3 linked regions of the Homo sapiens genome follow. The protein of the gene in region 1 purifies or fractionates together with the protein of each later gene. This does not show direct contact. Each region holds a gene or a part of one and is shown in the gene's direction. Other genes may lie near its edges. The genes, in order: U2AF1, CLASRP and RGPD2.

The links.
Region 2: the proteins of U2AF1 (region 1) and CLASRP purify together in Homo sapiens (affinity purification with mass spectrometry, with the first as the bait; one large-scale study listed by BioGRID). This does not show direct contact.
Region 3: the proteins of U2AF1 (region 1) and RGPD2 purify together in Homo sapiens (affinity purification with mass spectrometry, with the first as the bait; one large-scale study listed by BioGRID). This does not show direct contact.

The regions. Positions count from the first base shown.
Region 1 is NC_000021.9:43,104,680-43,108,975, reverse strand, and holds the start of U2AF1 (splicing factor U2AF 35 kDa subunit), read left to right. Parts: upstream 1-1,405; 5' UTR 1,406-1,481; coding exon 1,482-1,525; intron 1,526-3,130; exon of another isoform or gene 3,131-3,190; intron 3,191-3,420; exon of another isoform or gene 3,421-3,474; intron 3,475-4,296. UniProt on the Homo sapiens protein: Plays a critical role in both constitutive and enhancer-dependent splicing by mediating protein-protein interactions and protein-RNA interactions required for accurate 3'-splice site selection. Recruits U2 snRNP to the branch point.
Region 2 is NC_000019.10:45,066,532-45,070,176, forward strand, and holds part of CLASRP (CLK4-associating serine/arginine rich protein), read left to right. Parts: intron 1-805; coding exon 806-1,063; intron 1,064-1,483; coding exon 1,484-1,523; coding exon of another isoform or gene 1,524-1,527; intron 1,528-1,888; coding exon 1,889-1,949; intron 1,950-2,534; coding exon 2,535-2,593; intron 2,594-2,670; coding exon 2,671-2,717; exon of another isoform or gene 2,718-2,723; intron 2,724-3,412; coding exon of another isoform or gene 3,413-3,490; coding exon 3,491-3,573; intron 3,574-3,645. UniProt on the Homo sapiens protein: Probably functions as an alternative splicing regulator. May regulate the mRNA splicing of genes such as CLK1. May act by regulating members of the CLK kinase family.
Region 3 is NC_000002.12:87,780,771-87,784,415, reverse strand, and holds part of RGPD2 (RANBP2-like and GRIP domain-containing protein 2), read left to right. Parts: intron 1-68; coding exon 69-2,292; intron 2,293-3,178; coding exon of another isoform or gene 3,179-3,282; exon of another isoform or gene 3,283-3,645.

The DNA.
Region 1 (4,296 bases):
TCCTTAACCTTGGCAAAATAAACTTCTAAATTGATTGAGCCCTGTCTCAAGATACTTTTTGGTTTAAACCTCTGAGGCCCTACTGTTTCTAATACAGGTTTCCAGTTTGCTCATCTTTCCCAGGTAGGAAGATGCTCTGTTGCCAAGAGAAATGCAATTCTAACACGCAAATCCGCCCAAACACTAGAGCTCAGCATTCAGCTCTAGCCGAGCTAAGAGGATCCCATGGTCCTGCCCCACAGTCTGGGGCTCATCTTGTGGAGGAGGTAAGTAAAATAGGCCCTGTCTCTCTGACTTCTACCTAATCAGAGTTGATAGTTGCGTTGGAAATTAGGTAAATCGCAGGTGAGTTGATGAATGTGGGAAACCAGATGAAAATGGCTGCTTGATGGGGTTAAAACGCAGGAGAGGAATAGAACCCTTCCAACGGAATGGTTCCAGCCTTGTGACATGAGGAGACTGAAAGGGTATCCCAGAGGCAGGTCACTGGCCTTCCAGCTCCACCTGTGGGTGGCCTTGGCCAGGCAACTGCAAGAGTGCAGGGCCCCGGGGAGGTCGCACCTGGCAAGCGCTGAGGGAGGGTAAAGCGGAGAGGGGTGTGAGAAGAGAAAAACAACACAGAGCGTCCGAGCTATGTGAGGCGTGCGAGGTTAATCCGGCCCGGAGAGACAGGTCTATGCGGCTTCAGCGGTCCCCACCCATGCCTGGCAATTGTTTAAAGGCACTATTGCTCCGGACCCGCTGCCTTCACCCATGAACTTCCTTTCCTGGAATTATGATATAAAGAACAACGTACAGCCAATTAATAGCTTGTTATTTTCATGTAAATTCTTGGTGAGCTATTTAAGAACTGCCCCCCTCTTAAGCTTTATAAACCCACTTGTCACTGTTGCAAATCCTATGTTCAGGGCAACTTGAAGCTATGCTCCCGGGTTGCAATCTTCAAACTTGGCCCAAATAACCTCTCTACTTATATCAAGTTTGCCTCAGCTTTTTTTTTCTTCTAGGTCGACGGTTCCCGCCCCGCAAGGGTGCAGGGAAGGGGACGCCCGCACTTCCTAGTGCTCCCTTAGCTGGGGTCGAGCTGAGCGCCCCCCACCGAGCCCCAGGCGGCTCTGTGGAGAAGCCCCTCGGCCCCGGGTTCGGTCTGCACTGCCAGCCCCCAGTCCCCGGCGCGCAGGATCCAGCAGGGCCAGCGCCGGGCGGGCGAGAAGGCGAGAGAGCTAGGGCCGGGCGGGGAGGGCACCGGCAGGGGGCGCGGGTTCCCAGGACCGAAAAGGCGGAGCCTCCCACGCGCACTACGTGCTCCCTACGCGCATGCGTCCCGCCCACGCGCAGGCAGCACCTCGCCTGACTGGGTAGCGCTGCCACGTCGGGGCGGGGAAGAGCGTCGTCGCGTCCGGGTGACGTCTCCCGAGGGCGTCGGCAGGGTCGGCGGCGTCGGCAGCAGTGTCGACGGCAGCGGCGGCGGCGGGTGGGAAATGGCGGAGTATCTGGCCTCCATCTTCGGCACCGAGAAAGACAAGTGAGTGGGAGCCCCCCGCCGGGGGTTGGGCGCGATCGGGGCGCAGGGTGGTTGAGGCGGTGGGAGGGCGACCGGGGAGGCCCAGGCGGGCCGGCGCGGCGGTGGCGGGGGAGGGGCGCGCGGCGGGAAGGAGCGGTGGCCCTTCCGGCCCCTTGCGCGCCCTCCGGAGCCGCCGCCTCGTGGGCCGCGCGGCGGAAAACTGGAGCGGGCAGAATGAATGGGGTCTCTTTTCGGGGCGCCGCGGCCGAGCTTTCTCCGGCCTTGGGGTCCGGACTGGCTGATCGCCCGACGTCCGGGCCTCCGAGTCGCCGACTCCCGGAAGCCGCCTCGAGCCGCGCTGAAAGTTGCCTGGAGCATCCGGGCCTTTTGGACGTGGACACGTTTGTTCCAACTTTCGGCTGTGAATGTCCTGTCGAGCAAGCTCTGGTACCAGCCTCGCCAGTATTCAGTCGCTTATCTAACTTAGGGTCCTAAGCGTTGGTGTTTTATCCACTTAGCCAGCCTCTTGCCTGTTTAAGCGACCGCTGGGCCGGCAGTAAGGAGATATGACGAGAAAAAGTATGGTGGAGACTACTGGATTAACTATCTAACCACAAGAGACGTGATCCGCTCTTAACATACAGGTGCTCCTGGATTTACCATGGGATTGCGTTCCGATAAACCCATCATGAATCGAAAATGCCTTTAATACCCCGATAAACCCATCATCTAAGTTGAAAATTTGTAAGTCGGTGACTGTTCTTGAAGACACAATTCTGATATAAGGAAAAAGATGTTTTGATTTTTTCCTTAAGGTTGCATGCCTTCCCTAATCAATCGTTAGGTTAAAAGCAAAACATTTAATTTCAGCTTTAATTGCCACCTTGGCACGTACTAATTTCCAGTGAGTTGGCTGTAGTTTAGACTAAATGGAATGTTTTCAGACGTTTGAAGGATAATTCTTACTTTGAAAACCTAAAGACTCAGCATCTGGCTTAATCTACTCTTTAGTTATCTTGGCATTCTTCAGTGCCATACAAAGTTAACATGACTTTATGTTTTCAATGATAAACCCCTAAGTTTGTCATAGATGTTTTTAATGCCACTTTTTTCAAACGCTATTTAAAATGTTTCTCTTTTCCAGGATGGAGTCTATCTTGTAAAATGTCCTCTTCACACATGGTAGAATCTCCTGTGTTGTTTGGATGAGGAGGCTATATTTCTAGCAAAATTTTAAGCCAAAATCTACCAGTTATAGTCACTCCAGAAACATTTAGTGGGGGTCAACTATAGGTCAGTTTCTGGAGACTTAAACATGGGTAAAATTTGGATATTATCCTTAAGGAACTCACGGTATGATCTTGGCGAATGAATAGACCAGCTCTATCGGAACAAGAGACTCTTCTGAGTTTAGGGTGAAGAACTAACACATGTAGGATCGGGGCATCATTAATTTCTCCTTTTCATATTTGCATGTGGCATGACTTCTGTCTTGTAAAAGTCTATCTCCCTATATTTCTGCTATAAGCAACCACATTTCAATCTATTGGGCTATACTATAAAGGTCATGGTTTTAATTCAGAAAAGTTGATTATTTAATCTAGGTTACTTGTGTTTTCTTTTCAGGGAGACGTGGGGTTTTAGCTTCCAGGGAACAGGATCAACTCCTGAAAAATGAAGCTGATGGTTCATATTAACTTTAATTATTATTTAAGCTAAGAATAAAATATAGATCTCTACCAATTAAAAAATGTTTAGCTTATTATATGTTTGAAGTTATAGATGTTTTCTAGATTCAGGGATATCCTAATAGCTTGTCTGTAGTTTAATTGTGTGGAATAATTGGATATTAATTGTTGAGGCCCAGGGCTTGCCCATTCTGAGGTAGTTTTTAAATAAGCTTTCTTTATTTTTAGATGACTTCCTAAAGATATGCTATTGTCTAATCAAGTTAAATAATCTCAAGACCTGTAAGTTTGCAAATATATATAATCACTTTCCTCTCCTGATAAATTTGGACTTTCCCATCTTTATTGCTACCTGATAATAAATCAGTGGCTAGTCAGTCTTCATGGTCCATTAGATTTCACTGAGGTTGAGGCCCTTCAATCTTAACTCTGGATTGACTGTTTAAAACATAATGGCACTTGGTTAAAAAAAAATTGAATTTTGAACAAAGTCTGTCTGGTAAGATGTCCTAATTCATCAGAGATCGGCTTCCCTCCCTGACATTGCTGGCACACAGGCATGATTGCTGGTTCCATTGGATATGGATCTGGATTGTCAGCGTATTTGAACAGTATTAAGGGAGGGTTTTGCAGTAGAGACAGAAGGTGACGTAAGGTGGTTCCTAAGGTGGGTTCGGTCAGTCCCCTAATAGTTTGTTTTCAGTGTATTGAGACCAGGAGAATTGATTTACTTCAGACCTATTTTTTGAAACTCCCTGTTGGTCTGGTGTCATGCGTTTAGAGAGACTCTGAACTTCGTTTTCTGTTTTCCTTAGATAATGATAGCACTTCATGAGCACCATATGTGAAGCACACATACGTTCTGTCTGACTCTCAGAACAGTGCCACATTGGCATTGTCATCATTTACAGATGACATCTGAGAGCTAGGGTGACTTGCCCAAGCCCAAGCAGCTGGTAGCAGAGTTGGGATCTTAACCCTCACCACACCGGTGTTTTCAAGAGAGAACTTGGTCGTGGAGAACTGGAGAACAGATACTGCCTAAGTTACATTTAGTTTTAGACTAATTTAATACTCCATTTAAGAAACAAACAGAACAGCTGT
Region 2 (3,645 bases), on another chromosome or scaffold:
AGAATTGCTTGAACCCAGGAGGCAGAGGTTGCAGTGAGCCCAGCTATTGCACCACTGCACTCCAGCCTGGGCGACAGAGAGAGACTGTCTCAAAAAAAAAAAAAAAAAAAAAAAAAAGAGCCCAAGCAGAGTCAGCGTGTGGCCCAGAATTGGCTTCCAGGTCATATATTCCTTGTAGCTTACCCAGAGCAATGACAGGAGAAAGGCTTGGGGGACAGGTGGGACCTGGGCACATCTTGCATGCCAGCCTGAGAGTGGGCAGTGGGTGGAGAGTCCCACCAGTGTCCTGAGCAGGGAGAGGATGGGGTTCCGCATCCCCAGACTGGAACTTGTGGGTCTGTGCTGAGACTGGTGGAGGACAAGGGGTGGTCCCCACTATTGTCGAGACCCTGGACACAAGCAGGATGAGGTGGTGGGTGAGGGTGTAGATGAGGTCACCGTGGAACACTGTTGTGCCTGAGCTGGACACGGCTCATAAAGGGGGAGCCAGCCATCCCTCCCAGAGCTCACCTCCCGGGAAGTTAGCAAGCGGGTGTCTAGTGAGGGAGAGGTGACGTGGGCCAGGCAGGGCTCATGATGGCAGGACTGCCCTTAGGCTGAGTGTATCTAGAGCGCCATCTCTGTAGCCGGAGGGAGGCCGGAATGCCGCTCTGGGACATTTTGGAGGGAGAGTAGCAGGAGAGGAGAGTCGAGCCTGTCACCCTGGGCCTTGCAGGAAGGAGGACTGTGGATCCGGACCCAGGGTGGGGTGCGGTTGGGGTCCCTGGAGCCTCACAGTCCTCCTCCCGCCCTGCTGCATCCCCAGGAGCCGCTCCCACTCAGGGGACCGCTACAGGCGGGGCGGCCGGGGCCTCAGGCACCACAGCAGTAGCCGCAGCCGCAGCAGCTGGTCCCTCAGCCCGTCCCGCAGTCGCAGCCTGACTCGCAGCCGCAGCCATAGCCCCAGCCCCAGCCAGAGCCGCAGCCGCAGCCGCAGCCGCAGCCAGAGCCCCTCGCCATCACCCGCAAGAGAGAAGCTGACCAGGCCGGCCGCGTCCCCTGCTGTGGGCGAGAAGCTGAAAAAGTGAGCGGGGCGGGTCTGGAGGAAGAGGGCTGCCAATCTCGGGTGGGGAGGGTGAACATCACTGTTTTCTTTTTGAGGGGAACTTAGCCCTACCCTGGGAGGTCTGGGGGGTGGTGTATGGCCCTGGCCTGGGAGGGTGGATTTCAGGGGGACACAGCCCTGGCCTGGGGGGTCTGAGGAGGACACACCAAATCCTGGAGGATCTGCACAATTAGAACCTTGTCCTGGGTGAGGGTCAGAGGGGGACAGGTCCCTGTCTTACAGGTTCTGTGGGGTCTGAGAGGGACATGGTTGCACCCTGGGGCATCTGAGGCCCATGCCTTGGCTACCTGGTCTGAGGGCAGTGCTGAGGCTGGGGTCAGAGGTGGCAGCTGCCCTTTCCCCCTCCCAACCATGTCCTCTGGCCCTGCCCCCACCCAGGACCGAACCTGCCGCTGGTAAAGAGACAGGAGCTGCCAAAGTCAGTAAGAATTTGGAACTCGCCCGTCTAATTCCCGTCAGCAGCAGTGCCCAAGAGCTGGGCCCGGTGGGCCTGCAGGGGGGCCCGGGTGGGCTGGGAGATCCAGCCCCAGGGACAGGGAGGGGAGGGGAAGGGTCTGCCCCTGTGAGAACCATGTCCCTCTCCCCTCCTCACTGTACACTGGGGCTCCACCTGTCACTGAACCTCTGGGAGCCTCAGGGCTGTCCACAGCCTGCCCCTCCTCCCCACGTCGTTCTCCCCCCCCCACCCCCCCCCCGCACAAAGCCCCAGGCTTTTGGCTGAGGTGGGTTGTGGGAGCTCTGGGACACCCACCCCCTCTCCCGCCTCTTCTCCCCCCTCCCCAGCCCAAGCTGACGCCTCAGGAGAAGCTGAAACTGAGGATGCAGAAGGCGCTGAACAGGCAGTGTATGTTCTGCCCTGTCCCTCCAGGGTTTCACAGCTCTTCTTTCCCTTGGCAGTGGGAGCAAGGAGACTCAGCACCACTTTGGGAGGCCTGGCCCTTCCCTAGAGAGGCCACGCAGGCACGGAGGTGCTCTGGGGAGGAATGGGTTTGCATCAGCTCCGCTGCCGCTATGCTGGGGCCTCTGCAGTCAGGTTGACCTGTCTGAGCTCAGCTTCCTCATTTTAGAGAGTGGGGCTCTTAGCGGGCACGGTGGCTCACACCTGTAATCCCAGCACTTTGGGAGGCCGAGGTGGGCGGATCACGAGGTCAGGAGATCGAGACCATTAACACGGTGAAACCCCGTCTCTCTAAAACTACAAAAAATTAGCCAGGCATGTTGGTGGGCGCCTGTAGTCCCAGCTACTCAGGAGGCTGAGGCAGGAGATGGCGCGAACCCGGGGGGCGGAGCCTGCAGTGAGCCAAGATCACGCCACTGCACTCCAGCCTGGGCGACAGAGCGAGACTCTGTCTCAAAAAAAAAAAAAAAGAAAAAAGAGAGTGGGGCTCTTAAGGGAACCCCTCAGCCACCCTGTTCTTTCTCTCTACAGTCAAGGCGGATAAGAAGGCGGCACAAGAAAAGATGATCCAGCAGGAGCATGAGCGGCAGGTGAAGTGGGAAAGGGAGGGCTGGGGTGACGGGTGGGTGCTGGCCTGGCCACGTCCTCATAGCCCTGTCTGCTGCAGGAGCGGGAAGACGAGCTTCGAGCCATGGCCCGCAAGATCCGCATGAAGTAAGACCTTGCCCCTCCCTGTCCCATGGCCACACCTCCTGGCCTGCCTGGCCTTCCCACCATGGGCTGCTGGCTCAAGCCCTGCCCAGCTCCCTGTGGGTGGATGAAAGGCAGAGATCCCTGCCTGGCCCTCGGGGCTGTGCCCAGCTGCCTCTCTTGCTCCTCTCCCTGAATTTCCTCCCACCATTTCGACCTGCCTCCCGCCACCGCGACCTCCTCCCAGCTCTTCCAGCCTCCAAGTGCCAGTCACCTTTGCTGTTTTTTTGGCCTGGCAAGCTGTTCCTGATACCCCTTCCCCACTCACCCACCGCCATGGGTCTTTCTCCTGTCCCAGCCTCAGTTTGCTTATCTCCTAAATGGAGATACAGTCACTGTCCCACCTCACAGGCTGTTGGGAGGATTTGACAAGATCAAGGCCAGGCACGGAGGAGGCACCCAGTAGACGTAGCCATTGGGTTGCCAAGCCTGGCCACTGTGACGGAGACCATTTCAACACTCACTGTGTGCAGGTGCCCCAGTGCGGCAGGAAATGATGGGACTATCCTGCCTCCCTCTGTTCCCCAGGCTTTCCTAGGAAGGGGCTGGGATTCCAGTCAGCCCCGCCAGCTGGGGTCCCTCTGAACCTGGGGCTCCCTTTCCAAGCGGGGATTGGTGGCAGTACCGGCCCCCTTGGTTTACTGTCTTCCTCGGAGTAGGGTGTTGGAAGCACCTGCCCTCCCTGAGTTCAGTGTGTCCAGTGTTCCCGGCCAGATGCTCATGCCATGCCTTCGCAGGGAGCGGGAACGCCGAGAGAAGGAGAGAGAAGAGTGGGAACGCCAGTACAGCCGGCAGAGCCGCTCACCCTCCCCCCGATACAGTGAGTGTCCCCACCAGGCTGCAGGGCTCTGGGGCTTTAAAGAAAAGTGTCAAGCAGGGTTACCAAAAAAAC
Region 3 (3,645 bases), on another chromosome or scaffold:
GAAGGTATTTATTTCATGACTATTTTGGGCATGTGGATCAAGAAAATTCACCTTCATTTATGTTTCAGGGTTCTTCTAATACAGAATTTAAGTCAACCAAAGAAGGATTTTCCATCGCTGTGTCTGCTGATGGATTTAAATTTGGCATTTCGGAACCAGGAAATCAAGAAAAGAAAAGTGAAAAGCCTCTTGAAAATGATACTGGCTTCCAGGCTCAGGATATTAGTGGCCAGAAGAATGGCCGTGGTGTGATTTTTGGCCAAACAAGTAGCACTTTTACATTTGCAGATGTTGCAAAATCAACTTCAGGAGAAGGATTTCAGTTTGGCAAAAAAGACCCCAATTTCAAGGGATTTTCAGGTGCTGGAGAAAAATTATTCTCATCACAATGCGGTAAAATGGCCAATAAAGCAAACACTTCCGGTGACTTTGAGAAAGATGATGATGCCTGTAAGACTGAGGACAGCGATGACATCCATTTTGAACCAGTAGTTCAAATGCCTGAAAAAGTAGAACTTGTAACAGGAGAAGAAGGTGAAAAAGTTCTGTATTCACAGGGGGTAAAACTATTTAGATTTGATGCTGAGATAAGTCAGTGGAAAGAAAGGGGCTTGGGGAACTTAAAAATTCTCAAAAATGAGGTCAATGGCAAACCAAGAATGCTGATGCGAAGAGACCAAGTACTAAAAGTGTGTGCTAATCATTGGATAACAACTACAATGAACCTGAAGCCCCTCTCTGGATCAGATAGAGCATGGATGTGGTTAGCCAGTGATTTCTCTGATGGTGATGCCAAACTAGAGCGGTTGGCAGCACAATTTAAAACACCAGAGCTGGCTGAAGAATTCAAGCAGAAATTTGAGGAATGCCAGCGGCTTCTGTTAGACATACCACTTCAAACTCCCCATAAACTTGTAGATACTGGCAGAGCTGCCAAGCTAATACAGAGAGCTGAAGAAATGAAGAGTGGACTGAAAGATTTCAAAACGTTTTTGACAAATGATCAAACAAAAGTCACTGAGGAAGAAAATAAGGGTTCAGGTACAGGTGCAGCCGGTGCCTCAGACACAACAATAAAACCCAATCCTGAAAACACTGGGCCCACATTAGAATGGGATAACTATGATTTAAGGGAAGATGCTTTGGATGATAATGTTAGTAGTAGCTCAGTACATGATTCTCCGTTGGCAAGTAGCCCTGTGAGAAAAAATATTTTCCGCTTTGATGAGTCAACAACAGGATTTAACTTCAGTTTTAAATCTGCTTTGAGTCTATCTAAGTCTCCTGCCAAGTTGAATCAGAGTGGGACTTCAGTTGGCACTGATGAAGAATCTGATGTTACTCAAGAAGAAGAGAGAGATGGACAGTACTTTGAACCTGTTGTTCCTTTACCTGATCTAGTTGAAGTATCCAGTGGTGAGGAAAATGAACAAGTTGTTTTTAGTCACATGGCAGAACTCTACAGATATGATAAAGATGTTGGTCAATGGAAAGAAAGGGGCATTGGTGATATAAAGATTTTACAGAATTATGATAATAAGCAAGTTCGTATAGTGATGAGAAGGGACCAAGTATTAAAACTTTGTGCCAATCACAGAATAACTCCAGACATGAGTTTGCAAAATATGAAAGGGACAGAAAGAGTATGGGTGTGGACTGCATGTGATTTTGCAGATGGAGAAAGAAAAGTAGAGCATTTAGCTGTTCGTTTTAAACTACAGGATGTTGCAGACTCATTTAAGAAAATTTTTGATGAAGCAAAAACAGCCCAGGAAAAAGATTCTTTGATAACACCTCATGTTTCTCGGTCAAGCACTCCCAGAGAGTCACCATGTGGCAAAATTGCTGTAGCTGTATTAGAAGAAACCACAAGAGAGAGGACAGATGTTATTCAGGGTGATGATGTAGCAGATGCAGCTTCAGAAGTTGAAGTGTCTAGCACATCTGAAACAACAACAAAAGCAGTGGTTTCTCCTCCAAAGTTTGTATTTGGTTCAGAGTCTGTTAAAAGAATTTTTAGTAGTGAAAAATCAAACCCATTTGCATTTGGCAACAGTTCTGCCACTGGGTCTTTGTTTGGATTTAGTTTTAATGCACCTTTGAAAAGTAACGATAGTGAAACTAGTTCAGTAGCCCAGAGTGGATCTGAAAGCAAAGTGGAACCTAAAAAATGTGAACTGTCAAAGAACTCTGATATCGAACAGTCTTCAGATAGCAAAGTCAAAAATCTCTCTGCTTCCTTTCCAATGGAAGAATCTTCAATCAACTACACATTTAAAACACCAGAAAAGGGTAGGTACTTTGTTGTTAAAGTTAAGCACAATTTTTCTTTCTTTTAATGTTTAGCTTGATGCAGACTCTTTGTGGGATACTAATGTTGGGATATAAACGATGCTTTGTGAACACCCCCAAAATATTTGAGCAATTTTTTTTCTCCCTTAATAAGTTCACGGTGAGGTTTCAAAGAGCAAGAGAACTTAGTTAAAGACATTTCAGTAACTGGAAGATACTTCTATCATGCTAGGGCAGAGCAAAAGAACTTGGTACAGTGTACGGACTCATGCTTGAATCATGCGCATTAACGTGAGTCTTTTTTTAAAGTGTTCATTTTCATTTGTTCTGTTTCTTTTGTCACTCAGAAAACATGATATTGAGGCTGGGCACGGTGGCTCACTCCTAGAATGCCAGCACTTTGGGAGGTTGAGGTGGGCAGATCACTTGAGCTCAGGAGTTCGAGACCAGCCTGGCCAATGTGGTGAAACCCTGTTTCTACTGAAAATACAAAAATGAGCCGGGCGTGGTGGTGCGTGCCTATAATTAGCAGCTACTCAGGAGGTTGAGGCAGGTGGATCGCTTGAGCACAGGAGATGGAGGTAGCAGTGAGCTGAAATCATGCCACTGCACTCCAGCCTGACTGAGTGAGACTTTGTCTCCAAAAAAAAAAAAAAAAACAAAAAAACAAAAAAAACCATGATATTGAGATGTTCTCATTTTATGTGTTGTATGTCAGTCTTGCTCATGTATTAAATGAGCAAAGAATGAAACTACAGGGATAAATGAATATGTAAGACAGTCAGATTGGTGGTATAAATTGAGGGATTCTGGCTTTTTATGTTTTAAAAGCATATTCATTTTGTTTCCTAAAATGTTAAAAAATGAAATATTCTTTATTTTCTAGGATTTAATTTTAGCCTTTTTAAATCTAATCCCATGGCCTTTTGGACTAGCACCCCTTCCTCACAGCCTGAGAGCAAAGGTATAGAACTAGCATTCTCAGTATGAGATAACAGCAGTTTTTAGCAGCTGGTAGCCCTTAGGAAAGTATTAATAACTGTGGCTGTATGAAATGAAGTACTTACCACTACAACATGAATGTTAAAGAATGCCAGTTTAAGCAAAGTACCTTTTGACTGGTGGCATGACACCCTTGTTGGTTTGTTTTTTAAAATGTACTGGGATGCTGATTTGTAATGTACTTCATTGCTCTGCTATTTCAGGTCTGCTCAGTGAAGACCTATGTTTTATCTAATGTTTATCTTTAGCCACTAACGTCTGCCAGTATTCACATGTAGTGGCAACGGCATGTATACAGTATGGAAGAGTGTCCCTGTAGGGCTGTTCTTTTGTGCATGGTTTAGAAAAATG